2 linked regions of the Homo sapiens genome follow. The protein of the gene in region 1 interacts with the protein of each later gene in a pairwise test. Each region holds a gene or a part of one and is shown in the gene's direction. Other genes may lie near its edges. The genes, in order: TACO1 and CIB4.

Evidence for each region.
Region 2: the proteins of TACO1 (region 1) and CIB4 interact in binary tests that used the Homo sapiens proteins (3 or more experiments, as listed by UniProt).

Annotation. Positions count from the first base shown.
Region 1 is NC_000017.11:63,588,942-63,604,905, forward strand, and holds the start of TACO1 (translational activator of cytochrome c oxidase 1), read left to right. Parts: upstream 1-11,953; 5' UTR 11,954-12,142; coding exon 12,143-12,422; intron 12,423-15,592; coding exon 15,593-15,699; intron 15,700-15,964. Other genes in the region: DCAF7 (DDB1- and CUL4-associated factor 7), read left to right, coding at 59-231. UniProt on the Homo sapiens protein: Acts as a translational activator of mitochondrially-encoded cytochrome c oxidase 1.
Region 2 is NC_000002.12:26,628,367-26,643,573, reverse strand, and holds the start of CIB4 (calcium and integrin-binding family member 4), read left to right. Parts: upstream 1-2,207; 5' UTR 2,208-2,259; coding exon 2,260-2,313; intron 2,314-2,950; coding exon of another isoform or gene 2,951-3,006; coding exon 3,007-3,041; intron 3,042-4,934; exon of another isoform or gene 4,935-5,914; coding exon of another isoform or gene 5,915-5,934; intron 5,935-14,067; coding exon 14,068-14,164; intron 14,165-15,207.

The DNA of each region.
Region 1 (15,964 bases):
GATCATCATCCGCATTGCCTCACTTGTGACCTTGCTTGCTGGCTTTCTTTGTCCCTAGCGGATGACCACCAGGCTCTCATCTGGGACATCCAGCAAATGCCCCGAGCCATTGAGGACCCTATCCTGGCCTACACAGCTGAAGGAGAGATCAACAATGTGCAGTGGGCATCAACTCAGCCCGACTGGATCGCCATCTGCTACAACAACTGCCTGGAGATACTCAGAGTGTAGTGTTGGTGGCGCTGTGCCCACGAGGCAGGGGCTTTTGTATTTCCTGCCTCTGCCCCACCCCCAAAGTAAGAAGAAACATGTTTCCAGTGGCCAGTATGTCTTTCATTGCTTTGCACCCACTGTTACCAGAAGCTGCTCTAGGAGTTCCTGGCCAGTCACCCCATCGCCCTCTGTGGCAGACTCAGTGCTGTGTGGCGCCTCCTCAGCCCAGGGCTGAGTTTTAAGATTTTCTCTCCTTTCCTCTTCTCCTTTGGTTCCTCAATTAAAAAATGTGTGTATATTTGTTTGTCAGGCGTTGTGTTGAGGAGCAGTTCACGCACTGGCTGTGTCTATTCCTCTGCCCAGGTGTCTCTGTTTGCTGCCCAAGGCAGCAGTTCATGTCTCGTCCATGTCCATGTTCGTGTTAGCACTTACGTGGGAACAAATACCAATTTGTCTTTTCTCCTAGTATCAGTGTGTTTAACAAATTTTAACTTTGTATATTTGTTATCTATCAGGCTAATTTTTTTATGAAAAGAATTTTACTCTCCTGCTTCATTTCTTTGTCTTATAGTCCTCCCTCTTTGCACCTTCTTCTCTTCCCTCAGTGCCTGGAGCTGGTACTGGGCCCCTGGCCCCATGAGCAGTTTGCCTTCTTGAGTCACTGCCTGTGTAGTACATACCTGACCGGGAGTCCAAACCACCTTGGTGCTCTGAAGTCCACTGACTCATCACACCTTTCTTAGCCTGGCTCCTCTCAAGGGCATTCTGGGCTTGTAAACAGACATAGGAAGCCTCTGTTTACCCTGAAGCACCACTGTCCAGCCCATTGGTTCCCACTGGCAGCATGGTAGAGCTGAGAGAAACAGGCTCTCAGGGTACCTGACTTGAGGGGAATCGTTTCATGAAGCTGAACTTCAAGCATATTTCCAGTACATTCTTTCAGAGTCTGTTTTTCCATCCAAATATAAGCCCCAGGCCATTCCACTTAGTGTCTTTTCAATGATAGGCAAGAATGATATCTGAGTTGAACTTCGGTGCTTCTGTTGTTTGAGTTTACTGTGCCTGGTGGTATATTGGGCATTCTTTGGATTGAGTGTTCTGAGGTGAGAGAGTCTTCCCGAGGCATCCTGTCTGTGCTTCCAACCCTGAACAAGACCTTACATGAGAGATGGACTGATGGACTGCGGCAATCCTGGGCTGTCAAGTGGATAGATAGTTAAAAAGCATTATACTGTGGGTAATGAAAAGGGAGGAAAAAAAAAGAAGGAAAAGGAATTATAGACCCCCAGGGTCAGCCAGTTAAGAGCTCTACCCACACCTGTCAACCCCTCTCTCCCCCAGTTTAGGTTCTGAGCAGTATTGGACTTGTAGCCTGCAGTTGTCTTTTGACTTGCAGGCCGCAGGTGTCTTTCTGTTATGTGAATGAGTTCCATGGAGGGGCATATGTGTGATTCCACCGTTAGATGAGCCCTTGGGGCAGGCAGTTTGGGATGTGCTCTTGGGGGAAAGTTGGCTGTTTCCTTGCGCTCTGCTCCTACCCGAAGGTTTTTAAGTCCCTCTGAATTGCTCATCTGAGATTAGTAGAGTAGCAGGCCTGAAGGATGATGGTTTTGTCCTCTTTGGTTCTCACCTGCTTGAGAAGTAAAACAGTAACTTTGTTCTTCTGGGCCCTTAAGCTTTTTTGGTTAAGTCTTCCTTTTCAGAAGTAGATGTCATTATATGCCAAAAGTCTAGCTCTTTGCTTTACCATACAGGGACCTGTCCCAAAGAAAAAGGCTCTTTTTTTAGCCAGCATATTTCCCCTTCTACCCTTTTACTTTGTTGTTCTGATTTTAGGACTCTGGCTGGCCATGTGCTTGTGGTTGCCTCTCCTGCATTTGCCACTGGATTTGCACTGCATCGTTTGGAGATACAAAGCGAGCAGTTCTTGGTCAGAACCCTCCTCTGCTTTTCATTGTGTTTGATAATGGTTACTGGGTCCTTCTCTCAAGGGTAGCAAGGCCAAGCTGATGGCTGCTTGTTTAGGAGGCCATCAGTTCCTTCCTGTGGAGAAGGGTCTGAAATGGAAGTCAGTGGTAGAAGGGGCTGGTCTGCTGGGCAGGGCTTACATCCACTGAGTTCTAAGATTCCTTTCCTGATCTGCACCTACGCCTGGTCTGTATGGTGGAATTTGTCAGCTGGAACTCAGAAACAACAACTTGAAAAAAAAATAATAATTAGAACATATTTGCATAAGATAGCTATTTACTCTGGAAACCAACAACTTTTGAGATTTCCCTTGCCCTGTGGACGCCCAGCTCCTGTCATCCTTCCTTAGGTCCTGCAGTACAGTCTTCCCCTGAATGCCACCGGGGACCCAGGGGGACTCCACCCCCCTAAGCAAGCACACACATACTCACAGTTGATGAGTTGCTGGTCTTTGAGTCCCAGCTCTCTTACCCTCCCTTTACTCCACCAGCCCGACGACCCATGACTGAGGAGGGGATTTCTACAGTCTCAGGATTTAGAAAGTCTGTAAGCCATCCATGCTCCAGAAAGCACCGATCTGTTGTAGTTGCAAAAACAACTCTGTAATTTGTTGAGGTTCTCAAACTGACAGCCAGCGAGACTGGGTGGGAGGCCCTGGATCTGTTCTCCCTGACTGCGGGAGGAGCAGCCACTAGGACTTTAGCAGGAAGCCCACATGGAGGCTCCGCCAGGCTGTGGCCCAGCTGGTGATGGCCCTTTTGCTCCTGGCAGCCTGAGGCACAGCTGCCTGTATTGTCCTCATCTGTTCTGACTGAAGGATGGAGGTGCTGAATAAATTAGGCCTCAGGCCTCTACCACCAGAGAGCTGGAGAATGGGTCCACGTCATTCAAGGACCTGAATTTTTTATGCTCAGGAGCATTGGAATCCTCTTCTTCCAGGGAGGAATTAGCCTGCAAGGTTAGGACTTGAAGAGGGAAGGTATTTAATAACTGGGCGAGGATGGGTGTGGTGGCTCACACCTGTAATCCCAGCATTTTGGGAGGCTGAGGTGGCCAGATCCCAAGGTCAGAAGATCGAGACCATCCTGGCTAACATGGTGAAACCCCATCTCTACTAAAAATACAAAAAAAAATTAGCCGGGGGTGGTGGCGGGTACCTGTAGTCCTAGCTACTTGGGAGGCTGAGGCAGGAGAATGGCGTGAACCTGGGAGGTGGAGCTTGCAGTGAGCCAAGATCGTGCCACTGCACTCCAGCCTGGGCGACAGAGCAAGACTCCGTCTCAAAAAATAAAAAAAAAAAAAAAATAGGTGAAAATTCCTTATAAATCCAGGATTGGCTCTGAGAGAACTGGCTAAGATTCAGGAAGAAACAAAAAATTCAGAATCCTACAAGGTTTTGATGACAATTAGGGCCAAAATTTTAGGAGGAGATGTAGGATGCAGGAGAAAATTAAAGTGTTTTCTTTATATCAGAGGAGGAAATAGTAGAGGTCAGTGAAGGTCTGGGGTAGGGAAACATTCAGACTGTCCATTGCATGGCTGTGGAGTGAGACTGCCCTTAGCCTGGGTCAGCCTTCCTGGGCCATAAATTGGGCATCCGTGATGCTAGGTAACTGTGGGAACAAAATGACAGCTTAGAGCAGCCATGGGTGATGTTTGGTGGTAAAAAACCTACAGGCGTTTGGGGTCCCATGATTGTTCCAGACCATGACTCTTCCTGGTTGTGGGTTTGTTACAGAGCAGGAGAAGCAGAGGTTATGACAGTTATGCAGACTTTCCCCCTCCTTTTTCTCTTTTCTCTTCCCCTTGCTTTTCCACTGTTTCTTCCTGCTGCCACCTGGGCCTTGAATTCCTGGGCTGTGAAGACATGTAGCAGCTGCAGGGTTTACCACACGTGGGAGGGCAGCCCAGTACTGTCCCTCTGCCTTCCCCACTTTGAGAATATGGCAGCCCCTTTCATTCCTGGCTTGGGGTAGGGGAGACCATTGAAGTAGAAGCCTCAAAGCAGACTTTTCCCTTTACTGTGTGTACTCCAGGACGAAGAAGGAAGATCATGCTTGATACTTAGATTGGTTTTCCCAGGGAAGAGGGCGGAGCAGAGCAAAGTCACTGTGAACCCTGGGCCAGGCCCTGGCTGGGCCAGCTCCTGAGAGCGTCTCGTGTTGCAGACCCTTGCCCACTTCACCCACCTGCACCTTCTCCCCCTCTCACAGTGTCACTGCTGCTAATGGTCAAAGTCAAATGTGTGGCCACATGGGATGGGCCAGGTCCTCTCAGGCTACTTTCTGGATGTCATTTTTAAAATATGGAAACATGCAGGTGCCTTCCCAAAGAGGCTTGGACTGGTATATCCAACGAGAAACAAATAAGCTAAAGAAAGTTTAAACTCAAGAAGAAAGATGTTGACAGTCTATGTAACAGCTGGAAAGTTTATAGGCACCCACCTTTGGGACAACCCAGTGATTATGAACATGTGATATCTACTATTTAAAAGAAATGTTCTCACCTTGGGTTGATTGTGGTATACCATGTGTTATGAAAATTGTTGAGCTGAAGCTTTGAATCGATTTAGTTGAGTCTGACTCACTTGCTTTGGTTCCTGTGTATTTTACTACCCCTCTTGTCAGTGACCTTCCTTCCCCACCCCACCCAGAGTGAATTTGTAGCATGATTGTATAAACCTCTATGTAGAAAATGGAGATTTCTTGCTCTGAAATGTTAAGCTCTAACTGATCCATTTCTGTGTCCTTTAGCCTAGTATGTCTGAACTTCCATTCTTGTTATATATTTAAACTTTCCCTCTATATTATAGGTTTTGTGGCATCCACGGTCAGGTGTAGAGGAAGCTGCCCCTTGCAGAACTGTACTGTAATATTTTTCTTTTATAAATATTTTCACAGGACTGATTGTACACAGGGCTTGTAATAAAATTTTAACACTGTGCTGTGAAACAACTATGGGGAATCTCCATTGAAGGCTACTTCATGGGCACCTGAAAGTGGAGTGTTATAGCTATGACTTTCTATTTCTTGTTTCCTAAGTAAATTAAACCTAATTTTCACCCTTTCATTCTGTTTCAGCCTCCTGTATAAGAAGTACCGTATTTTCTGCCCATCATACTTTGTAATAAAACTTGAACATGTATAGATTGACTGAATTTCTTTTTGTGACGAATTCAGTTCTTCCCATTTTGTCACTTTGGTCATGTTCCATAGACAGTGGCAGTGCCCCAGCCCGAGCCGGGCAGTCTACTCATCACCTTTTATATCCTATTTAGTCATTCACTTGTTAATTCAGTGGAGCACCTCCTCTATGCCAGGGGACATGGCCCTCAAGTTGGTTGCAGTCTACCAGAGGAGACATCTACATAAATACTTGTGGCCGGGCACAGTGGTCTGTGATCCCAGCTGAGGCATGGGGGTGGCTGAGGTGGGAGGATCACTTGAGGCCAGGAGTTCAAGACCAGCCTTGGCAACATAGCAAGACCCTGTCTCAATCAATCAGTCATTTTTATTAAAAAAAAAAAAAATTTCTTTTAGCCAGACTAAGATCTAAGACAAATCTTTTTTTTTGCATTTCTTTTTTCTTTTTTTGAGACGGGGTCTCGCTCTGTCACCCAGGCTGGAGTGCAATGGCGCGATCTCGGCTCACTGCAACCTCCACCTCCCGGTTCAAGCTATTCTCCTGCCTCAGCCTCCTGAGTAGCTGAGATTACAGGCATGTGCCACAACACCCGACTGATTTTTGTATTGTTAGTAAAGACGGGGTTTCACCGTGTTGGTCAGGTTGGTCTCGAACTCCTGACCTTGTGATACGCCTGCCTCAGCTTCCCAAAGTGTTGGGATTACAGGTGTGAGCCACCGCACCTGGCATTTATTTTATTTTAATAGTTTTGGGGGAACAAGTGGTTTTTGGTTATGTGGATAATAAGTTTTTTTAATGATGATTTCTGAGATTTTGGTGCACCCATCACCGGAGCAGTGTACACTGTACCCAATTGGTAGTCTTTTATCCCTACCCCCTCCCACCCAAATTTTTAAAAGACAAAAAACAAAAAAACCAAATAACTTGCATTGTTGTGCGATAATGGATGTGTTTAGGCATCACCCCTCAGGAGGAGGTGATCACCTCTGCCTGTGTGGGAGCCACATGGGGTCAGCGAAAACTACTTAAGATGGATGCCTAAGCTGGGTTTTGAAGGCTGAGTAGGAGTTATCTGGAAATAGGGAATGTCCTTTAAGGCAGAGAGAACACCCATGTGCAAATCTATGGAGGCAAGAAAGTATGGTCATATTTAGAGAATTGCAGGTTGAGGTGGGGTGAATAGTGGGAAATGTAGCTAGAGATGTATACAGGAGCCAGGGCAGGGAAAGTCTCCCGCTTTGCAGAAATTTTAGACATTACACTTCTGTATGATCCTGGAAAACATACACAGAGAGGAGTCATCAGAATTGCATTTTAGAAGGATAGGCAATGAAAAAGTGCCTCTTCCTTCTTATAGGGTGAGAGAAAAACCCTGAACTAAGGCGGCGGCGGCAGCAGCAGCCACGGCAAGGATGGAGAGGACAGGGCACAAGTAAAGAGGGATGCAGTCATCAGCATTTAGTAATTTATTGATTGTGAAGGAGGACAGAGAAATAACTCCCAGATCTTTTGGATTTGGACAGGTTCTGATGGCTGACTAGGAATGTCCAAGTCCCTGCTAATTTCCCAAACCTATGCCCCACACGGTAGGGTGGGGGAGTTCCTATCCCACTGCTCTTCAAATGCTGTGTGTCCTGGATGAAATACTACCCCCATTTATTTATATTTTTATTCTTCATGTTGGGCCACTGTGAAGGAAGAGAAGAAAGGCAAACTGATTGGTTCCGTGAACCTGTATTCGGTAAGTACCTGCCATTGTGTCAGCTGATATGGAGCCGGTGGCAGTGGATCTGTGAAGGGAAGTATGTGCTCTTGAGAATTTAATTTTTTTTTTTTTTCAGACAGAATTTCGCTCTTGTTGCCCAGGCTGGAGTGCAATGGCGCGATCTCGGCTCATCGCAACCTCCGTCTCCCGGGTTCAAGCGATTCTCTTGTCTCAGCCTCCTGAGTAGCTGGGACTACAGGCATGTGCCACCACGCCTGGCTAATTTTATATTTTTAGTAGAGATGGGGTTTCATCATGTTGGTCAGGCTGGTCTCAAACTCCCGACCTCAGATGATCCACCCACCTCGGCCTCCCAAAGTGCTGGGATTACAGGCGTGAGCCACCGTGCCTGGCAGAGAATTTAAGTTTTATGAGTACCTGCTGGTCCTTTGGAACTGTGCTGCTATATGGTCTGACAATGTATATTTTGTGAGAAACACATGAGTCCTGCTCTCTGGTTTTTAAGGAGAAAACAGAGAGTAATACTATTTATAGGCTAGCCTATGCTGCGGCAACAAACCCCCAAATCTCAGAAACTGAGCACTACAAAAGCTTATTTTTTGCTTACACAAAGTCCTCTGGGCCGGGTGCAGTGGCTCAACTCTCTAATCCCAGCACTTTGGAAGGCTGAGGGGGGAGGGAGGGGCAGATAGCTTGAGGTCAGGAGTTCGAGACCAGCCTGGCCAACATGGTGAAACCCTATCTCTACTAAAAATACAAAAATTAGCTAGGCATGGTGGCACACGCCTGTTGTCCCAGCTACTTGGGAAGCTGAGGCAGGAGAATAGCTTGAACCCGGGAGGTGGAGGTTGCAGTGAGCCAAGATCGCACCACTGCACTTCAGCCTGGGCAACAGAGCAAGACTCCATCTCAAAAAATAAAAATAAACGTGTGACCTCCAGGTTGCTTATGGGGGGTGGGAGGGAGTACATTTTTCAGGATGGGCCGGGAAGTGGCTTACTCACTTTTGCTCCTATCTGCCAACTGCAAGGAAGGTCAAGTCAAGAAATGTAGTCTTCCTGTGTACCCTGGAAAAGGAAGTGAAGTAGTGAATAATTATGTCTCAGCCATACTAGCAAATCGGCTAAGTATCTGGACTAATAACTAATGTAATCTCATTCATTGAGAGCTGTTAGTACTGGACAACACATGGTCAAACCTAATGGAATGATATTTGTAGCCAGTCTTTAGCTTCCAAGGCTCATTGTTACTTAAGTGATTTCAGTGAGCCTGACAGCCAGGCGTCTAGAGATGGTTCAGTCAACTATGAATTTATCTTGAAAGGTGGCTATTAACTCAGACTGAGAGTTAAAATCTGCCCTGCCATTCATCACAGATGCACAGACAGATAAAACCAGCTGCACAGTTAACAGGATATAGTACCTCTATCAAGAACACACTGCAATTTTTTTTTCTTTTTTTGGCAACATAAAGTGTCAAAACTCCCTGAGTGACTACTGTTTTAAAAAAATTCACTGAGAAATTTCGTTCTCCAAAATCATAGGCTGACAAAGTTTGCTGTTTGCAATTGTATTTGTGAGAATTAAGGCTTATAGTCAGTCTTGCTTGGAGGAGCTGAGTCACTCTGACAGAGAAGCAGCCTTGATTTCCAGGCCAGGTATTGTGCTTCAGAGCAGGGGCTTCTGAACACAACAGTCCACATTTACCTTGACTTTGTACTTTCCAGGGAAACTGATCCCCTGGGTCCACTTGGTAGTCCAGCTGATCTTAATCCGCCTTTCACACAGGTCTGTGTTTCTTTGAGCCTAACTCTAATTTTTCACCTAACTTCCACCCTTCCCCATAATTCTATGACCAGTTTTTTCTTCGGTAAGACACTTCACCATTCCTCTGGTGTGCAGTCTCCCTTGTTGCAGTGAGTTGATAAGCCTAACTCTGTGAGACTATAGGTTTCCCTTGCTGGTCTCAGGCTGACTGGACTAGGGCAGTCTCAAACCTTGTTTTAGCCTCTACACTTATTTGTGATTACAAATTCCATTAATTTGATTTTTGCTTCTCAAAGTAAATATTACATATATATTTTTTTCTTTTTTTTTGAGATGGAGTCTCGCTCTGTCACCAAGGCTCAAGTGCAGTGGCGCGATCTCGGCTCACTGCAACCTCCGCCTCCTGGGTTCAAGCGATTCTCCTGCCTCAGCCTCCTGAGTAGCTGGGACTACAGGCGCGTGCCACCACACCTAGCTAATTTTTTGTATTATTAGTAGAGACGGGGTTTCACCGTGTTAGCCAAGATGGTCTCGATCTCCTGACCTCATTATCTGCCCCAAATCGGCCTTCCAAAGTGCTGGGATTACAGGTGTGAGCCACCATGCCTGGCCTGAATAAACTATTTTTAAATTGCAAAAAGTAATACTATATATGAATGGCTGATAAGCACATGAAAAGATGCTTACCATTAGTAGTCATTCAGGAAATACAATCAAAACCACAATGAGATAATACTTCTCACCCACAAGGATGGTGATAACTATAGTCAAAAAGAATAACAAATTTAGCCAGTGGCTCACACCTGTAATCTCATCTACTTGGGAGACTGAGATGGGAAGATCACTTGAGCCCAGGAGTTCTATGCTGCAGTCAGCTATGATTGCTCCACTGGACTCTAGCCTGGGTAACAAAGCAAAAAAAAAAAAAAAAAATTCATGATATGGAGAAATTAAACCCTCATATATTGCTGGTGGGAATGTAAAATGATACAACCACTTTAGAAGACAGTCTGGCAATCCCACAAAAGGTTAAACATAGTTATGATATGACCCAGCAATTCCACTCCTAGGTATATAACTAAAAGAAGTGAAAACATAGGTCCACACAGCAATGTGTACATGAATGTTCACAGCCTCATTATTCATCATAGAAGGTGGAAACAACCACATGTCCATTGCCTGATGAACAGATAAATAAAACGTGGTATATTCATACAATGGAATATTATTTGGCAATAGAAATGAAATACTGATACATGCTACAACATGCAAGAATCCTGAAAACATCATGCTAAGTGAAAGAAGCCAGTTACCAAAGGCCACATAGTGTGTGGGCCCATTCATATTAAATGTCCAGAAGAGGCAAACCCACAGAGACAGAAGTAAATTGGTGATTGCCTAGGGCTGTGGGAATTGGGGGGAAATAGGGAATGATTGCTAATGGGTACAGGACTTCTTTTGGGGATGATGAAAATGTAAAATCAATTGTGCACAGCTCTGAATATTCTATAACACATTGTACACTTTGAATTGGTGATCTGTGTGATCTGTGAAATATGTCAAAACTTAATTTTTTAAAAAATGAGAACTGTGTTGGGCATAGGAAGTACAGTCCTACTCTCAGAGAATTTAGTATTACGGTAGAAACAGATATAAACATTTTGATATTTTTTTAAAAGGTAAGTGCTAAGGTGCAAGCATGTATGAAGGGCTATGGGCACCCACCGCACCTGGCTAATTTTTGTATTTTTAGTAGAGACGGGGTTTCACCATGTTGACCAGGCTGGTCTTGAACTCCTGACCTCAAGTGATCTGCCAGCCTCGGCCTCCCAAAGTGCTAGGATTACAGGCGTGAGCCACCGCACCCAGCCCCATGGAGGTTCTTATATAATAAAAAATAAAAAATCTATGCTTTTGTGCTTTGCATCCATTATCCCATTTAGTCCTCACAAGGCCATTCTATGGTAAGGAAACTGAAACAGGAAAGTAAAGGAACTTGCCCAAGGATACACTAGAAAATGGAACAACCAGGGTTTGAAGCCACCCAGTCTAACTGCAGAGGGCACAAACTTGGACTTCACACTGTCCTGCTTCTCTCTCTCTCTCTCTCTCTTTTTTTTTTTTTTTTTTGAGTTGGATTCTCGCTCTGTCGCACAGGCTGGAGTGCAGTGGCGCGATCTCGGCTCACTGCAACCTCCTCTTCCCGGGTTCAAGCGATTCTCCTGCCTCATCCTTCTGAGTAGCTGGCATTACAGGCGCGCGCCACCACGGCCGGCTAATTTTTTTGTATTTTTAGTAGAGACGGGGTTTCACCATGTTGGTCAGACTGGTCTGGCACTCCTGACCTAGCGATCCGTCTGCCTCAGCCTCCCAAAGTGCTGGGATTACAGGCGTGAGCCACCGCGCCCGGCTGTCCTGCTTCTCTACCTGATATGTCATGCCCTTTGGACTTAATCTCACCAGCATGGGAGTCACTACAAAGCTTTTCAGCAGCTGCCGCTTTGTTTCTCTCCATCTTCTAACGGATTCGGTTTTCTCTTTCGAGACAGCAGAGAGAAAATGAAGAGGGGAGTTTAGCTCCAAAGGGCTTGTCTGATCATTCTCCCTCTCCCAAAGGCCTGTGACTCATCTGAGTCTGTCCCAAACCATCTCTTGCATCTAGGGGCTTAAGTGCACTGTGGCTATTTACATAAAACTTTATTACTTTAAAGCTCTAAGGGCTCATTTTGTGTTTCTAACTTTCCTATGTTGATAAAGCAAATATTAGATCCTTATTTATAAATAGGGAAGACGTTCAGAGAGATTAAACATTTGGGCAATTCACTTCTCTGGCAGCAGTTTCTTTCCCAGTACAATGAGGCAACAACAAAATATCATTCTGGACTTGCTCAGATTTAGGCAGCAATTTGGAAGCAAAGTCAGTTTCATAACTCAGATGTGTCTCCACTAAAACATTATGAGAAACAAAGTCCGGCGCTCTCTAGGCAACCGTGAGGGCTTGAGCACTAACTAGATCTGCTCAAGGGCAAGAGAGGAGCGAGTACCGTGCAGCCACGGAACGGACTTTGCGGGCAGTGGGGACGTGTTTTTGGAGCGAACCCGGTAAAGGAAGTGTGCTACGCCATCAAGGGCCCCCAGTCCCGGGTGCCGCGGGGACAGTGTAGGGTCATTAGCTGTTGAGCCGCCCCGGGCGGGCCCAAGCCTTTGGATCTCAGGTGACCGGCACAGGCGGCCGCGGGGTCCGGAACTGCTTGTTCCGGCAGTGGAAGAGACGCGCCGGCGTTGGCCGCTGCTGCTAGCAGCTTGAACCCCAGGGTCGGGACCGATGTCGGCTTGGGCTGCTGCCAGCCTAAGCAGGGCCGCTGCCCGATGCTTGCTGGCACGAGGCCCCGGGGTCAGGGCGGCTCCTCCGCGCGACCCCCGGCCCTCCCACCCCGAGCCCCGGGGCTGCGGTGCCGCTCCGGGCAGGACGCTGCACTTTACCGCGGCTGTCCCCGCCGGGCACAACAAGTGGTCCAAAGTCAGGCACATCAAGGGTCCGAAGGACGTCGAAAGGAGTCGCATCTTCTCCAAACTCTGTTTGAACATCCGCCTGGCAGTGAAAGGTGAGACCCTGACGGTCACCCAGCACTGGCTGCCGCTGCCCTCTCAGTGCCCGCAGCCTCGCTTGCCTCTCGGAATTGGGCCCACCTAGATCTCCGGCCCTTCACTTTGTTTTCCTTCCCCAGTACCCACCATTGCCCACCTCATAAATCCTCAAAACACCTACCCTACGTTGGAGGTTCTCACTCACTTTTCCAGACGCTGAGCATCTGGCCAGTTTGTCAGAGAGGGAGCTGCTCTTAAGAAGATAAGCCGGTAAGGTAGAAGTGACTTCATCCTAATCTAGCTGGGTACTTAATAGAAACAAGCCCTAAGAGTCAGGGCAGATGTGTGTCTCTCCTGAAGAGACAAATCAACCCCTCTGAAGTCGCCTCAAGTACCTTATTGGTTGTGGCAGGGGCACTGAGTAAAGCTATTACTTAAGTGCTTAGGCCTTAGCTTAGGCCTTAGTTTGCTTCATTAATGTTTCCCCAAGACACATTTCCTTGGAAGGTAGATTTGCAGCCATGTCTTTTCTCCCTTAGGTCGCCACACTGAAAAGGCTTTTTTTCTGTTTAGGGCCAGACATCTGTAGGAGCAAAGGAAAAGTCCTGTAGAAAGCATGGACTTTGGACTGGGCGCAGTGGCACAGCCTGTAATCCCAGGCCAGAGGCAGGCAGATCACTTGAGGTCAGGAGTTCAGGACTAGCCTGGCCAACATGGGGAAACCCTGTGTCTACTAAAAATAACAAAAAAAAAAAAAAAAAAAAACAGCTGGGCATGGTGGTGCATGCCTGTAATGCTGGCTACTCGGGAGGCTGAAGCAGGAGAATTGCTTGAACCCAGGAGTTGAAGGCTGCAGTAAGCGAGATTGCTCTACTGTACTCCATCCAGCCTGGGTGACAGAGCAAGACTCCATCTCAAAAAAAAAAAAAAAAAAAGAGAGAGAAACTGTGGACTTTGGAGTCAGGAAGACTGGTTTCTGTCACTGACTAACCTTGAACAAGTAGCTTAACTTGAGTTTCTCTGAAACAAGGATAATACCCACCTTGAGGTAGTTTATGGTTTATGGCACATCATAGGCATTCAGTTAATGTTAATTTACCCCCTCAGCTCATGCCTGGTATTTGTTTGCTTCCTTTTCTTCAAAATTCTTGATATTAAGTTCAAGCAACTTTTATTTATTTATTTATTTATTTATTTTGAGACAGAGTCTCACTCTGTCACCCAGGGTAGAGTGCAGTGGCGTGATCTTGGCCCATTGCAACCTCCACCTCCCAGGCTCAAGTGATTCTCCTGCTTTAGCCTCCGGAGTAGCTGGGACTACAAGTGTGCACCACCATGCCTGGCTAAATTTTTTTGTATTTTTAATAGAGACAGGGTTTCACCATGTTGGCCAGGCTGGTCTCGAACTCCTGACCTCAAATGATCTACCCACCTCCACCTCCCAAAGTGCTGGGATTGCAGGTATCAGCCACTGCATCCCAATGAAGTTCAACCAACTTGTGTTTATTTTGTGCCAGGCATGCCATTGGTACTAGAAAGATGATGAGATACAGCCCCTACCCTCAGATCACAATGTCATGTGAACATTTCAATAATTATGCACAAAGTGCTGGGCACGGTGGCTCACACCTGTAATCTCAACACTTTGGGAGGCTGAGGCCGGCGGATCACGAGGTCAGATCGAGACCATCCTGGCTAACACGGTGAAACCCCGTCTCTACTAAAAATACAAAAAAATTAGCCAGGCGTGGTGGTGGCGGGCGCCTATAGTCCCAGCTACTCAGGAGGCTGAGGCAGGAGAATGGCGTGAACCCAGAAGGCGGCGCTTGCAGTGAGCCGAGATTACACCACTGCACTCCAGCCTGGGCAACAGAGGAAAACTCTGTCTCAAAAAATAATAATAAAAATAAAATAAAATAAAAATAATTATTATGCACAAAGTAGTAGAGTAAGAGCAGTAATGAGTCCAGGAAGTGTTGTTACCATCTATAACCCTTCTTCATCTGACACAAAGTAGAGATCGCTGAAACCTAGCAGAATGAAAACCATCCCTAAAGACAATGAATTAGAAAGTTCTGGCCAGGCACGGTGCCTCATGCCTGTAACCCCAGCACTTTGGAAGGCCAAGGTGAGTGGATCACTTGAGGTCAGGAGTTCGAGACCAACCTGGCCAACGTGGTGAAACCTCATCTCTACTAAAAATACAAAAATTAGCTGGGCATGGTGGCAGACACCTGTAATCCCAGCTACTTAGGAGGCTGAGGCAGGAGAATCCCTTGAACCCGGGAGTGGGAGGTTGCATTGAGCCAAGATGAGCCAAGATCATGCCACTGCACTCCAGCATGGATGACAGAGTGAGACTCTGTCTCAAAAAAAAGGTCTTTTCTGGCCAGACATGGTGGCCCACACCTGTAATCCCGGCACTTTGGGAGGCCGAGTCAGGCAGATCACTTGAGCTCAGGAGTTTGAGACCAGCCTGGGCGACATGGTGAAAACCTGAATCTACAAAAAATACGAAAAAAATTACCTGGGTGTGGTGGTGCACACCAGTGGTCCCAGCTACTTGGGAGGCTGAGGCAGGAGGATCGCTTGAACCCTGGAGGTTGAGGCTACAGTGAGCTAAAATCATGCCACTGCACTCCAGCCTGGGTGACAAAGTGAGACTTTGTCTCAAAAAAAAAAAAAGTACTTTTCCAAAATACTTATCCAGGCCAGGGGCAGTGGCTCACACTTGTAATCCCAGCACTTTCGGAGGCCAAGGTGTGTGGATCACCTGAGGTCAGGAGTTCGAGACCAGCCTGGCCAACATGGCGAAACCTGGTCTCTACTAAAAATACAAAAATTAGCCGGGTGTGGTGGTGTGCACCTGTAATCCCAGCTACTCAGGAGGCTGAGGCAGGAGAATCACTTGAACCCAGGAGGTGGATGTTGCAGTGAGCCAAGATCGTGCCACTGCACTCCAGCCAGCAACAGAGTGAGACTCCATCTCAAAAAACAAACCAAAAAAACCCGAAAATACTTCTCCGTATCCCACTGAAACACTAGTTAAGGTATTCTAAGGTAACTGAGAGCTAAATGGTGATTTGCCACTCCTTTGGCTTGGTGGGGCTGGAAATCCCTTTTATTCTCCCATGTTGTAATGAGATGTCTTTGCTCACTCTTTTTTTTCTTTTTCTTTAAATCTCAGAAGGAGGCCCCAACCCTGAGCACAACAGCAACCTGGCCAATATCTTAGAGGTGTGTCGCAGCAAACATATGCCCAAGTCAACGATTGAGACAGCACTGAAAATGGAGGTGTGTACTGTTTGACATGCTTTTTATTGATCACAGCCTCTACCGGGCTCATGTCTGGATGGCCAACAAACACACTGTAAATTATCAGAGGGGCCAAGTGCAGTGGCTCACGACTATAATCCCAGCACTTTGGGAGGCTAAGGTGGGTGGATCACTTGAGGCCAGGAGTTTGGAGACCAGCCTGGCCAGCATGGTGAAACTCCATCTCTACTAAAAATACAAAAATTAGCTGGGCGTGGTGGCATATGCTTGTAATCCCAGCTAC
Region 2 (15,207 bases), on another chromosome or scaffold:
CACCTGGCTAATTTTTGTATTTTTAGTAGAGATGGGATTTCGCCATGTTAGCCAGGCTGGTAATTTACCCTTTATTGAGAACTCAATACATAGCAGGTATCTTGCTAAATAAGAGCTTCACATACACCCATCATTTTATTTTATGCCTGCAATACTTATGAAGTAGGGATTTATCATTCCCCTTTTACAGATGAGGAAACTGAGGCTTACAGTATTTTATGACTTGCTTGAGGTGATGCAGTAAGAAGAGATGCTGCCAGGCCTTTCAGATTTCAGAGCCCATGTTCTTAACCACCGCATGATAACAGCAACTTAAATGCCACCACCTACATGAAAGCTTGGTGCCCAGCAAGCCTTTCCTCTTCTAAACACTCGTAACTCTGTACTCTTCCCCGTCTGTGACATCTGCCTCCATCTGCTTTAGTGTGTGTATATATGTGTGTGTGTGTATGTGTGTGTGTGTGGTGAGCACACATTTCTTTTTTTTTTTTTTTTTTCTTACTCCCTTAAAAGAGCATGAAGAGCATACGTTCCTTGAGGGTTGAAGTCATGTTCAGTCCTCTCTCTCCCAGGGTCAAGCCAAGTCCCTGGCACACTGTGGATATTCTACCTGTGTCTGGTGAGCAGATGAAGGAATGAGGGCCCCGGGTTTCCTTCTGCCAGGCTCTATCCCCATGGAGGACAGTCAAAGAAAAAGCAGGCAGTTGCACTTCAGAGATATAAATAAGCGTCATCAGAGAATCACTGGGATGTTTACTCAGGAGAGCATAGGGAAGATGTGTTCTAGAACAAGGAGACCAGCCTTTCATGACAAAGGTGGGTGTGCAGACCCTCCTGGAGGCAGGGGAGGGAGTGATGGCTTCTGGAAGGCCCTCCTGGCCTGTGATGTTGATGCCTGTGCTGGACGTTGTCTCTGTCTGCCCATCCTGCTCCGCCCTGTTCTCTTCCCTGTAGGAGATCACAGAAAGAGGAGAGAGTGGGGCTGGGGTGGTGCTTCCAGGTGGGTGGTGCTGGGTCGGGTAGCAGCTCTTTGTTGTTGGGCTCAGGAGTCTGTGTTATCCAGTTATCCATGTGACTTCCCTACACCCTGAACACATCTTTGTGGAGAGTCCTTTTTTTAGACCCTTTTCACATGATCCTGATTTGATGGTGCCCTTTGTTCCTGCAGAGACCCTGACTGATGGGGTGGAACGCCCTTTTCTGTACTTTTTGGGCCACTCCCTGAGGTTGGATCTATGCTGATATATTTCGGCATCCCCATGCCTGGCATAGTCCTGGGGTTGTGGTTCCTTGTTTATTTTTTATTTTGATTTGTTAGAGACAAGGTCTTGCTCTGTCACCCAGGCTGAAGTGCAGTGGTATGATCATCGCTCACTGCAGCCATGAACTCCTGGGCTCAAACGATCCTCCTGCCTCAGCCTCCTGAGTAGCTGGGACTACAGGTGTGCTGGTGTGCACCTCTGCACCCAGCAGGTTGTAGGGTTTTTTTGTTTTTTTGAGACAGGGTCCTAGGCTGGAGTGCAGTGGTGCGATCTTGGCTCTCTGCAACCTCTACCTCCCAGGTTCAAGCGATTCTCCCATCGTAGCCTCTGGAGTCACTGGGACTACAGGTCATGCCACCATGCCAGCTAATTTTTGTATTTTTTGGTAGAGACAGGGTTTCTGCATGTTGGCCAGGCTGGTAGCAAACGCCTCACCTCAAGTGATCCACCAGACTTGGCCTCCCAAAGTATTGGGATTAGAGGCGTGAGCCACCATGCCCAGCTAGGTTGTGGTTCAAATAGCTAGCATTTATTGAGCACTTACTATGTGCCTGACATTATTCCCTGTATTCGTCAATCCTCACAACAATCCCATGATTATCATCCCCACTTACAGATGAGGAAACTAAGACACACAGATATTGAAGAGCTTGTCCCAGGTTACAATGGGGTGGATCTGGGATTGGAGCCCAGGCACTGTGACTCCTGAGCTGACAGTGTGACTCTCAGCCCCATCTTTGGACTGCCTTTCTGCTTGTTGTATGGGACTGATGCCTCTTAGCTTTGGGATTGAAAATAATTTGCTTCTTTGCTAACTCAGCAACTCAGGTGGAATGGGAATGAAAAGAATTTGTTTCTTTGCCAACTCAGTAACTCAGGTGGAATGGGCAGAAGGTGGAATGTAGGTCACCATGGCAACTGGATCAACGAGGTGCCTCAGCTGGCGAGTCCTTGAGGCTGAGGTTCTACTGCTGGCAGACAGAAAGGTGTGGTTGGCATGGGGCAATGCTTGAGGTATCAGATGCACTGGGAGGACCTGGAAGAGTACCAGGTGGGTAGATCGGGCTAGGGACTCTGGGCAGAGGTGGGAGCTTCCTAAAGCAGGTGGAATGAATGGGAAAATTCCTTCCTGACGCTCTAGCAGGGGTGTCCAATTTTTGGCTTCCCTGGGCCACATTGGAAGAAGAATTGTCTTGGGCCACACATAAAATACACTAACACTAATGCTTGCTGATGAGCTAATAAAAAAAAATCACGAAAAAATCTGATAATGTTTTAAGAAAGTTTACAAATATGTGTTGGGACCCCATTCAAAGCTGTCCTGGGCTGCATGTGGCCTGCAGGCCGTGGGTTGGACAAGCTTGCTCTAGAGTTTACCAGGCGGGGTAGCGGTGGTCCCTCTCTTTGCTAAATCTGCATCCATGTGGCCCAGATGAGATCTCTAAGGTTACCTTCCTCCATCTGTCTCCTGCACCAGAGCCCAGAGTTTCACTCTTGTCTCTGATCTGCTCTCCACATCTGTGCCAATGCCCTCCTTCCCAGGGCTGTAAGAGACTAGGGGGTAAGAAAGAGCACCATTTCCTCTCCTGCTGCCACCTCAGGCATCCACCTCAACCTGGGGTTCCCCCAGCTGTGCAGCAAAAGAATGGGCATTTCCTCCCCAGCCTCTGAATTGCGCCACTCCCCAGGGGCCACAGCAGGGATGAATGGAGTGGACACGTCGCTTCTCTGTGATTTGTTGCAGGCCCTGACCTTCCTGACCAGAAATGAAATTCTGTGGTGAGTAGAAGCCCCGCCCCTCTTTCCTTCTCCCAGCTCCTCCCTCTGAGCTGGATTCTTGCCCTAATACAGCCTCACGCTGGTCCCTGAGTGTGGTCCCTGCTCAGAGCCACACAGCCCTGGAGATGGGGCTGGGACACGGCAGGCAGGGATGGGAGGGCCCAGGGGCCACGATCCGCAGAGCCCCACTGGAGCTGAATGAGACACCAGGCTTTAGGCTGCTAACCTTTTACTGGGATCCAAAGTGAGGTTTCTTCAGAGGATCATGGAGCTGGACAGAACCTCTTTGGAATAATGAGGAGAACAAGGAAAGGACTTGGGGAACTTATGTCTGAAGCCCATTTTGGCTGTCCACTGGCTGGGTAAACTTGGATGCATGACTGAAGCCCAGACTTCCCTCTCCACCTCCCTCCCTCCCTCCCTCCCTCCCTGCCCTTTCTCCGGTGCCTGTGATGTGCTGGCCTCGTGGAGGCCCTGAGGGTGGGGTGGTGAGCAGCCCCGCTCCCTGTTGTCATGCGGACCGCTGTCCAGTGGGGAAGAAACTTCATTCAACGTGGAGGTGGCCAAATACCCTTCTCGTGGGGCTGTGGGGGAGAGTGAATAGTGTGAGAGGTGTGTGTGTGTTTGTGTGTTTGGGCCAAGCCAGGTGCCCAACAAAACCTGTTAGATGAATAAAGGAGCTCACCAAGACACTTTCAGGGGAAGGTGGGGGAAGGTTCCCTCTCATCATCTTTGCTTGGACTAACCCTCCCCAGTCACCACACGGAAGCCACATTTCCCACTCAGGGTCTGGTGGTGGCAGGTAACAACTTTGTCACAAGTGCAAGACTCTCCAGGCACAAATGAGGATGGGGGATGGCCAGGGCACGGGGAGCTAACCAGGGGCTGTCACCCAGTGACATTGTTTCCCTTTTGAAAATAATATTCACTCACTTTTTTAAATATAGAAAAATATGACATAACTCCAAATGACCCATATCCTACTACCCATATAACCTCTATTGAAATTTTCTGAAAAGTATCACATGAATAAAAATAAAATGAAATCTAAAAAAAAATGCTACCTGGCTAGAAAATTCAAAATTCAAATAATGGTTCTCAGTCATAAGTGGGAGTTGAACAATGAGAACACATGGACACAGGGAGGGGAACATCACACACTGGGGCCTGTTGGGGGGTGGGGGTCTAGGGGAGGGATAGCATGAAGAGAAATATCTAATGTAGATGACAGGTTGATGGGTGCAGCAAACCACCATGACATGTGTATACCTATGTAACAAACCTGCATGTTCTGCACATGTATCCCAGAACTTAAAATATAATTTAAAAAAAAAAAAAGAAAATTCAAATAGTGTAAAAGTTCTAAGTGAAAAGAAAATGTCTCCATTCTCTCCTCCCAGTCCTTTTCCCTCAAGGCCGCCTCTGCTCACTGTTGGTTTGTCTTACCATCTAGCCTTCTGGAAGAATTTTCCATACATAAGCCAACACATTTATCCTCCTTTTACCCCATTCACATGGTTGCATTTATCCCTTCATACTGTTCTGTACCTTTTTTTTTTTTAAGCTTTTGGGGTTTTTTTTGAGACAGAGTCTTGCTCTGTCTCCCAGGCTAGAGTGCAGTGGTGCAATCTTGGCTCACTGCAACCTGTGCCTCCCTGGTTTAAATAATTCTCTTGCCTCAGCCTCCTGAGTAGCTGGGACTACAGGTGCCTGCCACCACGCCCGGCAAATTTTTGTATTTCTGTAGAGATAGGGTTTCACCATGTTGGCCAGGCTGTTCTCAAACTCCTGACCTCCAGTGATCCTCCCACCTTGGCATCCCAAAGTGCTGGGATTACAGGGGTGAGCCACTGCACCCGGCCTACATTTTAGAACTTCGATGGGTGAGACAATGTTGTCCTTCAAAGGAGTTGCACCAGTTTGTACTCTCAGCAAGGGGGCATGGCCATGCCTGCCCCTCTTTCTAACCCAGGGGCTTCAAATGGCATTCATGGATCCACCCCTGGGGTTCCTCCTATATGCCAGGAGAGAGCATGGGGTGGTGGACGAGAGGAGTGAGAGGAGTATGGGAAGGGTTCAGGCTCTCTCTCGAACATCGATCCTCCATTTTCATTTGTTCTGCCTTGGCCTTCGGAGAAAGAGTTCCTTGGAAGCGAGCCATGCTTATGGACGCCTCCCTTCTGAACCTCCCACCCAGGACCTGAGACGACCTCCTCCCAGATCCTGTTTCCAGTCTGTTTCCATCCCTGTGGAAGGTGCCTTTCCCCGGAGAAGAGCACAGTTTGGCTCCGCGTTGTGTTGGGGAGGTGGGTCCCTGTGAGTGCTGCCAGGGAAGGCTCCAGTTCACAGTTCACGGTTCATGGTTCAGTGCAAACTTCTCTAACAAGCAGTTCTTAAAGCTCTTTCTGTCCTGCCCCTTCTCTTGAGAGACCCATTCCTGAGCATGAAGGGCCTGTGCCTGCCCCTGGGTAGCTCCTGCTCAGGAGGCTCCCACTCTCAAAGGCCGGCGTGCGTCAGCGCTGGGGGTGGTGGGGTTGGGGACGCCACTGCATAAGGAAGGCAGAGTAGAGGGCAAAGTATCCAACTCCTATTACTTGGACACCTTCAGATAAGACAGAGTGAGAAGCACTAGTGGGGCCAGGGACAGCAGTGCAGAAACTCTCAAATGGGAAGGTGATACCAGTGAGAGCCCTCTGCTGCTTTAAACCAAGGGGAGTCTCCAGACCCAGGAGACCACAGCCTGGGAAGCAGCTGAGAATGTGGAATAGCTGTCAAGAGCTTTGAAGAGTGGAAGAGGACCAGCGAAGGCAGGAGATGCTGAAATGTCCCAGTTCAAAATGAGAAGTACACCTTGACCCAGCCATTCCACTTGCATGAAGAGGACACAGGTGAAGTAAGTGCTGATTCATCCCTCTGTGGAAGACTGCCCTTAGAGAGGAGGGGAAGAGCTTTCTGTTTGATATAGAGCCATCTCCAAGGTATATTATTAAGTTAAGAAAGCAAAGTTCAGGGGGCTTCCAGTTACGTGGAGAATAGAGCATTTTCTTTGACCTCTGTTTACTAAAAGGAGAGTAAAGGAATTAAAAAAAACAAAAAGAAGAAGAAAGAAACCCATAAGGACAAAGAGAACACAAGCAATGACAGCAGATGAGAGAGGTCAACAAAAATTTTACAAGTGCAAAGCAGATAGACCCATGACGCAGACTTAGCTGAATAGAAAGTTGAAAGAATTTTGCCTGCAGGGGTTGGATGATGGAATCGAGAACGCAGAAAGGCTCAGGAACCTCCAAATGCCAGGATGCAGGATCAGGTGAAAACAGAAAGGCAGATTGAAAGTCTTATGTGATTCCTTCTCTCTCCCTCTGCAATCCACAATCAACTTGGCACCCCTGCCCTGCCCCAGCGGAAGACAGGAGCTAACCATCTGGGGAGAGCTGGAGCCAGACAGGCCCCTGACTCAGGGCCACCAGCATGATGAAGAGCAGGGTGAGCTTCTGGTCAGCATTTTAGAGCCTCCCTGTAAGTAGAAATCGAAAGCTAAGGGACACCAGGTATTTGAGGAAAGAATAAAAAACGGCCTACACACACTAAGTCATGCCATCATGACATTTCAGACTGGCAGAGATGATGAGAAGATCCTGAGTGCTTCCACGGAGAGCAAAACAGACTACAGAGAATCAGGAATGAGAATAGCTTTGGACTTATGTTGGAAGACAGTGGCTAAACACATTCAAAATTCTAAGGAAAAAATTTCAATCTAGAAATAAGTTCTAGCTAAGCCATTAATCAAGAGTCAGGGCAGGATAACAATACTTTTTGTCATGCAAATTAAAAAAATCATCTCTTATGGACCTTTTCATAGGAAGCTTTTGGGAGATGTGCTTCATTAAAACTAGCGAGTAAACCAAGAAAAAAGAAGACCCAGGATCGGGGAAACAAAGGCTTTCAACCTAGAGGCAAAACGAATTACAAGGAAGATAGTGAAGGGAAGCTGAAGGATGACAGCAGGACAGTCGGCCTGGAAAGCAATCAGTCCAGATTAGAATTAGGGAGTCAGGGGTTCCAAGAGTGGTGTCTCTAAGAGACAAAATGAATCTATCTAGATACCATATTGAGAGGTACTTATTTCTGCAGAAAGTTTGGAGATGAAATAAAGATAGGCACACAAAAACCAAGGCAAAAAACTGAAAGTGATTATTCATTCTGGGAAAAACAAAAAGACTTGCAGGAAAGAAGTAATCATGTTGCACTAGGGAACTCAGCTTGAGCAATGTTTGAATAATGCATATACGATATATAATATTATTATAAACACTGAATATTCATTCAGGAAAATTGTTTTATATTGGGAGGTTGGGGAAAGGAAAAGAAGTATATATAGAGAAATAAATCCTCTTTTTTTCTACTAAGAGGTCACAAGATAGTATCTATAGTGAAAACAACAGCAAAGGCAGTATTAGCACAGCATTTGGAAGTACCATGTAAATATTAAGCAAAAACAAAGTGAAATAGCAAAATGCTTGCAAACTGCTGCCTTTGGAGAGCAGGGTTAGAGAGGTGGTGTGGGGTATGGAGTATTTGTAACTTTGATTGTAAGCTTCACAGTATCACAGTACTATTTGCATTTTTAATCTATTTAACTGTATTACTTTGGCAAACAAGACCAGTACATACAGGCTGCTACTGCTCTTATGAAATAAAGGGCTGTTCATACATGCATACACAGAGGAGAATATCCCTGGAAGCAGACACAGAAACTGATAATAGGTTATCTTCTTGGTGGGGCCCTGGGGAGTGGAATATGTTAGGGTTGGTGTGGGCATGCTGTCTGTAAAGTGAGGGGACAGCTGTGATGTGGATGCCCAGCTTCTCTGGCTCAGGGAGCAGAAGGCATGTGATACTCACGGAGAAAGTGGCCATCCTGGGCTACCAAGGCCAAGTTGAGCCAGACGAAGCCCTGGTCACTTTTGAATGATTTTCCACTGTGGCCTCTGACAATGCCTTGTGATTTTCCTATTGGTGTCATAGAGAAATGTGGCCCAGATGGCAGTACAGTTGGATGGACTTAGCCAGTTAAAAAAGTATTCAAGAGACCGATAGGTAGAAGTAACCTTTGCAGGGAGGCTGGCTCTGTCCAATATTTTCCCACCTTTTAATCTGTGACTTGCATAAGGACACAAAGGCCTGGTCACCAGATCTGCAGATGACACCTCCTGGGGGCTGGTGGGGGGAGACCTCATGTTCTAGACTTGTCTTGGAGCCAGCACCTTCCCAGTCCAGGGCTGCTTTGGTTTGGCCCTCCAAGAAGAGGTCTGTTCACTCTAAGTTTCCAGCCTATGAGACTTTCCTTTCACATGTTTTTGATCTCAGCAAAAGCAAGGTCCCTTTCCGCCCTAGCATCGGGGCAGCATTGTCTGACTCTGTTTGAATTGGTTGTCCCAGAAGAAGCCTTTTCCCGAGATGCCTCTTCTGGGCCCAGGCCCTTCCGGCGGTGACTGCAGACCGTGCAGACCCTGCAGACCCAAAGAGGGCCCATGTGGCTTCCTGGGCAAGGCACAGCCTGACTCCAGCCCAGACCTCTATGTCTCAGGCGCAGGTCAGCCTGGCTCAGCCCGAGCTCTTCGGACTACTCTGCATTGCCTGGGATGGTTCCTGACACTCTCTTGGGTGGGGTGGGGTCTGGTTTAGGAGCCTGAAGCTTTGCTTCCAGCCTCTGCTCAGGCTGACCCAGCCATGGGGCCTTTCTTCCTAGAACCTCTGGAGGTTCCAACACTTTGTAGACTCCATGGCCCTGTCCTGGCCATTAACGGGCACCTCAAGGCCGCAGGTGGAGTGGTTACAGGTTTATTTCCTGGAAGCCAAAGACCTGGGTTTGAGGCTCAGCTCTGCCACTTAGTAGCTGTGCAAACACGGGGGAGTGTCTTACCCTCCCTGAGCATCAGTTTCCATCCTTATAAAATAGTTGAGGGAAATAGAACCTAATCTCACAAGGTTGTTATTAGGACAACCAGAAGATCAAATCTGTCATTGTTAGAGCAATACCTGGCACATGGGTCAGCACCGATTACGTGGCTGCTGTTACTATCATGGTATTATTATCCCTACTTTTTGCAAATGAGGAAATCAGCTCAAAGAAATGAAGTAATTTCCTCAAGCCCACACAGATTGCAAGTAGCAGATCAGGGAACTAAAAGCCACATTTTCAGGCTAAAGAAGGACCATTTAGAAAATATCTACTATCTGCAGGCAGTACTGTAGAGCAAAGGACTATTGACCCCGTGGGGTGGGGGTGAAGCCAGAAAGCTGGGACTTGAGGAGTGGGAATTCGGGTTTGTCATGTTCTTGATCTCTCTGGGGCAGTAGAAATACTGAGAAGCTTGTAGAACCTGTAGGTGCCTCGGGCTCTATCCTGGCCTTGAATGAGAACTTCAAGGGGTGGGGAGGGCAGATCCTTTTACAAACTCCCTACATGATTCTTACGTGGGACCCCGTTGAGAACTACTAAGCTAGAGGGTCTCAGAGGCAAGGGGGTAAATGGGATGCCAGAGAGAGGCACGAAAGACTAGAGTCATAGGATACCTAAACTGGAGGGAGCTGGGGGGATGCTGGGACTCTAATTTCACAGAAGGGAAACTGAGGCCCGAGAGGGGACTTGGCGAGTCCAAGGTCCCACGGACAGTCAGCAGCAGAGTGACCTCCACCCGTCTTAGGGCCAGCCCCTGAGCCCGCAGGCAGCCCCTCCTGCCTCTCTGGGCTGTGTGGAAGGGAGCCATGGCCCAGGCTGCTGGATTGCTGGCAGGCTGAATGTGTGAGTTTTTCAAATGGCTTTGACTTTTGAGTCCATTAGTGATTAATTCAGGGTTCCATTTAGAGCCAGCTGATCCATATTTGGAGGAGGAGAACATTTTATGGCAGCCGAGATGCAGCCACGATTCATCTATGGGCAGCCCGCCCACTCTGCAGCCTGGGAAGGCACCAACTCCAGGCAGGCACCCCACCAGCACCCTCCCCGAGAGGACTTTCCAGGGGGGTGACTCGAGTCTCTCACCTGGAAGAAGGGTGGGCCCTTTAGGGGTGGGCAGCACAGCCCGAAGAACTTGGTTTAGGGTTCAGCCCTCCACTCCGTCTCTTCCCAGCTGTATAACCTTAGATACAACACTTAAACTCTCGGAGCCTCAGTTTACCCATCTGTAGAAATGATGGCCCCTCCACTTCTCCCACAGAGAGTTGTTGGGAAAATTCAGTGAGATGATGTGTGTGAGTGCACCCGGCACAGAGGCTTTGTCATGAGAGGGTGGCAAGGGCTGGTGAGTTTCTTTTCTGCCCCTCAGCAGCCCCTGATGCCTCCTGGGGAACGAGCTTTGGTGTTTGTATCTCTGGCTTTAACATTTACCACTGTGTGACCTTAGGTAGATTATTTTACCTACTTGACTTTCAGTTTCCTCATCTGTAAAAGAAACAATGGTCCCTTCCTTGCAAGACTGGCATGAAACATGCAGAATGTCCGTGAGAGTTGGCTACACAGAGCAGGCACTCCCGGTGGTGCCCGTGGTGGGGGCAGGAGCCCGAGCTCACTTGTGCGTTGCCTTAGGGATTTAAAAAAAAACCAAAACATTAATTTTTGTTGAAAATTGCTCTTATTGAAAGTGGGTCTGTTCTTTATCACCTCAAGCCAGCAATTCTAACTATGACAGTGACAAAATGCTCCTTTTGACTGGAGCCGGCCACTCCCACTGCCCTTAACCCTTTCTTTCTTTTTCTTTTTTTTTTTTTTTGAGATGGAGTCTCACTCTGTCGCCCAAGCTGGCGTGCAATGGCGCAATCTCAGCTCACTGGAAGCTCTACCTCCCGAGTTCAAGCGATTCTCCTGCCTCAGCCTCTGGAGTAGCTAGGATTATGGATGCGCGCCACCATGCTGGGCTAATTTTTTATATTTTTGGTAGAGTTGGTGTTTCACCATGTTGGCCAGGCTGCTCTCGAACTCCTGACCTCCAGTGATCCGCCTGCCTCAGCCTCCCATAGTGCTGGGATTACAGGCAGGAGCCACTGCACCCGGCCTACCCCTCGCCCCTTGTAGGCCACTGGACACTTCAGCAGTGATGGCTTTTCTTCCTGCTTGTTGACCTGTGGTTCCCAGCATCCACCCCAGTACTTTCCTGGAGAATCTCTCCCCCAACCCGTTCCACACTCTGCTTTCTGCTCCCTCCCAAACGTGTGCAGTCTCTAGACCCTAGTGACAGCTCAGGCCCCTTCCGTGGCCAAGGCGGCAGTCATGGTGCTCTCCATGAACACCACACGCCACTCCAGCTCCCATCTGTCAGGCCCTAGCCTGGATCTGCACAATGCCACTGGAAGGAGGCTGGCTCTCCATCAGACAGAGTCAGGATATGAACCTGGGCCTGCGTGCTCAGAGAGGTCCGGCAGTTTGCCTTGGGTCTCGTAGCTAGAGGTAGAGAAATAGGATCCAGATAGATCCAGATAGGTCTGTGAGCAACCCGGCGGGAAGCAGGTGGCACACTCAGCAGGATCTTTGAAGGTGCTTTGCAGTGAAGGAACTGTTCAGAAGGAGGCCCAGGGAAGCACCCAGGGGCCAGCCCTGACTGCCCCAGGCCTGAGGTGATAGCTGAGAGCTGGAGCTGCAGAAGCTGGCTGCTAGCCTGAGACAGCGGGAACACAGACACTGCAGAGTCGTGTGGGGCTGGGAGGGAGAGGAGGATAAATCCCCACCCATCCCTCATACCTCCAGTCCTCCTGGAGCTTCCCTTAAGCCAGAGGGAAAGGGAGGTGGGAACACTGTCAGTAGAGATCAGCCTCCCAGGGCACAGAGTGCAGTGGGCACACAGAATCCCAGCATAGTTTCTTTCCACTCTCCCAGGGCTGGGAGCTGAAGGATGTTTTTCTAGTCAGTGAGATGTGAAACAGTGAGTGGCTGGCAGGGTGCGAGGCCTCCACCTACCATCGTCAGGGCTCTGGGAGAGCCTCCTGCTTCCTGCTCTACCTCTGAGTCTCCACTCCTAAAATCACCCTCCAAATTCTTCACCTAGTTTTTGTTGTTTATTGAGACGGGGTCTTGCTCTGTCGCCCAGGCTGGAGTGCAGTAGTGCGATCACAGCTCGCTGCAGCCTCAACCTCCTGGGATCCAGTGATCCTCCCACTTCAGCCTCCTGAATAGCTAGACTATAGGTGCGTGCCAGTATGCCTGGCTAATTTTCAATTTTTTTGTAGAAATGGGGTCTCCCTGTATTGCCTAGGGTGGTCTCAAACTCTTGGGCTCAAGCGATTCTCCCGCCTCAGCCTCCTGAAGGGCTGGGATTACTGGTATGAGCCGCCGCACCCGGTCTTCACTTAGTTACATGTCCCTAAATTCCACCAATCAGAGCCTCATTTGAGTCAACAAACCACATACCCTGGAATGTCAATAGGGGACTGTTAGTCACTCACTCCTGCATACAGACTCCTTTCATGGGATTGCTGGCCTCTCAGGAGAGTAGAGGTTTGATGGAAGACAGGAGAGGAACAGGAAAGGACTAAAGGAGGGAGGGGTAATTTTGGAGCATGGAGGGGACCATGAAGAGAGGGGAGAGCAGGTCTGGGTCAGGGTGGTGGGCTCCCACTCTCACAGTCTAGGTGTGGGTTGTGCACAGCCCAGGAGCACAGGGGCACCTGGAGTATAGGAGAGAAACACAGAGAGAGGGCAGGCTGGGTGTCCCCTCTGAGGCCCCGGGTAACACAAACACTCTTACCTACCAAACACTGCGCTGACGTTTCATACACCTCCCCTCATTTAATCCTCACGAGTGTGTGGGGGGAGATTTACTACCCCACTGCAAAGAGGAGCAGACTGAGGCTCAGGTGGATTCAGAACCTTGCTCGACGCCTCAGAACTATTAAGTGGCAGAGTCAGGATTTGAATGTAGATCTGTCCGGCTCTAGAGACAGTGTTTTCAACCAGCCTGTGGTGACCCCACCACCCGCCATCCACCATTTATACATAAACACACATACCCTTCAGCCTCCTTCACACTGAACCCCCGCCACAGCCCTCCAAGAGACATATCATTCTTGTCCCTTATCCAGATGATGAAACTAAAGTTCAGAAATGTCAAGTGAGTTGCCCGAGGTCACACAGCCCTGCCACAGCAGTTCAGGTTCTGGGATCCAGGCCTCCTGGGCCCCAGGGCACCACTGTCTCACCTCCACTGGCTGCCTTGGGTGCTGGACCTGTAGGCCTAAGAGCTTGCTGGTGGACAGGGACCCAGGTTCAGGATAGGGTGAGAGAGACAGGCAATGAGGGCTCATCCTCTCTTAGCCTGAGGCAGAGCTCCCTCCCGCCCTCTTACTCTCAGGGGTCACACGGCCATTTCACCCTCTGCCTGTAGCTTATAAGCAAAATCCTCTTGACTGGGATGGGATCCTATAGACAAGAGACATCGCTGACAGGGATGATTAGGAAGACCAGTCAGTCCACGATCTGCTGCAACCAAGTTTGCTGTCAAGTGGCCTAGCAAGGCTGGTGGTTTGCTGGCTGCAGGCAGCCGGGCTCTAATCCCGGCTCACTCAGACCCACGAAGTGACCTCTTTTCTTGGGTTGAGGATGGAAATTGGCAGATGGCCAGAGGTGGGGACCCTGGCTTCCCCAAGGTCCTACTGGCTTCCCCATCCGTAACCGAGGGACTGGACATAAGCCCCTTCAGTTCTGACATTCTATGATGAACCCTCGTAGAGTGTGCTGCTCGCTACAGGGCATATTCGCCTAACTTTCCTCTCACCTGGCTCATCTCTGCATCCTCTATGGTGTGCCTGGCACACTGGAGGGTCCAGGGATGTTTCTAGAAGACATATTTATTACTGCGCTTTATTATTATTGATTACTGCCTTTTCTGTGTCAGCCAACCCCAAGTCTCCTTCCTCAAAGAGACACCCCCACCCCTTGCAGCAGGAGACAGGCTTGCTGGCCTCCTTTCCCCGGCCACACAGTGCTGGCCTCCTTTCCCCGGCCACACGGTCTTCATGCCTCTCTTTTCAGCATCCATGACACCTTCCTGAAGCTCTGCCCTCCTGGGAAGTACTACAAGGAGGCAACGCTCACCATGGACCAGGTCAGCTCCCTGCCAGCTCTGCGGGTGAGTCCAGGATGGTGGGTGGGGCAAGGGCAGCATCAGTGGGACCTGCTGATGGGCTGATGGGTGCTGGGAGGGGTGGGGTGAGGTGGGCACTCCGTGCTGTGGGATGGTCACCTCACTCCAAGGGGCTCCTGATCCTCCAGGCAGAGGAGTGCAAGGACATGGCTCCCAAACACTTCCTGCATGCATCTGGCCTCCCTCCATCCTCACCTCGGTCCTAGAGCAGGACCCTGTGATAACAGTCACTACTTCTCAGGTGGGGCCAGGGGCAGATGGGGCATGAGACCTGCTCCAGGCCTTACCGTGGGAGGTGGCGGCCCCATCTGGAGGTGCTCACTGGCCCTGCTGCTCAGCCTCCGAGGCCAGCCTATGGGTCTTTAGATGGGCTTCAGCTTGCAGTCCACCCCACTCTGTTTGCTCATTCCTTACTTAACCCTCACCCCAGTGACCCCACACCAGCCAGTTTCCTCTGCTGTCTGTTGTGCCCCAAACTAGGGCAAGTGACCCTAGGCCAGGATCCCCTGCAGGACCATTAGGCCTTGAGGAAGCCAGGGTGCCACCCTAGCCATCGGCCCAGTCCCTCAGCCCTTCTCTTCTCCTCAGGCTGCCTCAATGGACTGGGGCTTTTCTAGAGGGACTGAGAATTTTCTCAGGTTCTTCTCTGAGAAGACAGGAGGAGCAGGGCTCGGGGCCCAGAGACTGTCCTCCCAACCTGCCTTTTTCCCAGCTCCAGGAGTGGCTGCAGGAAAGAAGGGTGCTTGCATTTCTGCTCTTGCAATCCTCTCTCTCCTCAACTCGCCCTCAATTCAGCCAGCGCTGCCTGGGCTGGAGGCTCCTGTTACACAGAAGGCTGGTTGAATGCTCATTCCCTCCCAGTTTCCACAACTTGTCCTGGGCTGAATCTCACCTTCCAACCACCTAGAACACACTCCCACCCCCCACAAACACACACCCTTGCTGTGGATGGGTCCTTGGCAAACCTTCCCTGGTCTTGGTTTCCTCACCTGTAAAATGGGTAGAGCAGTGGGGGGAGGCTGGGAGTG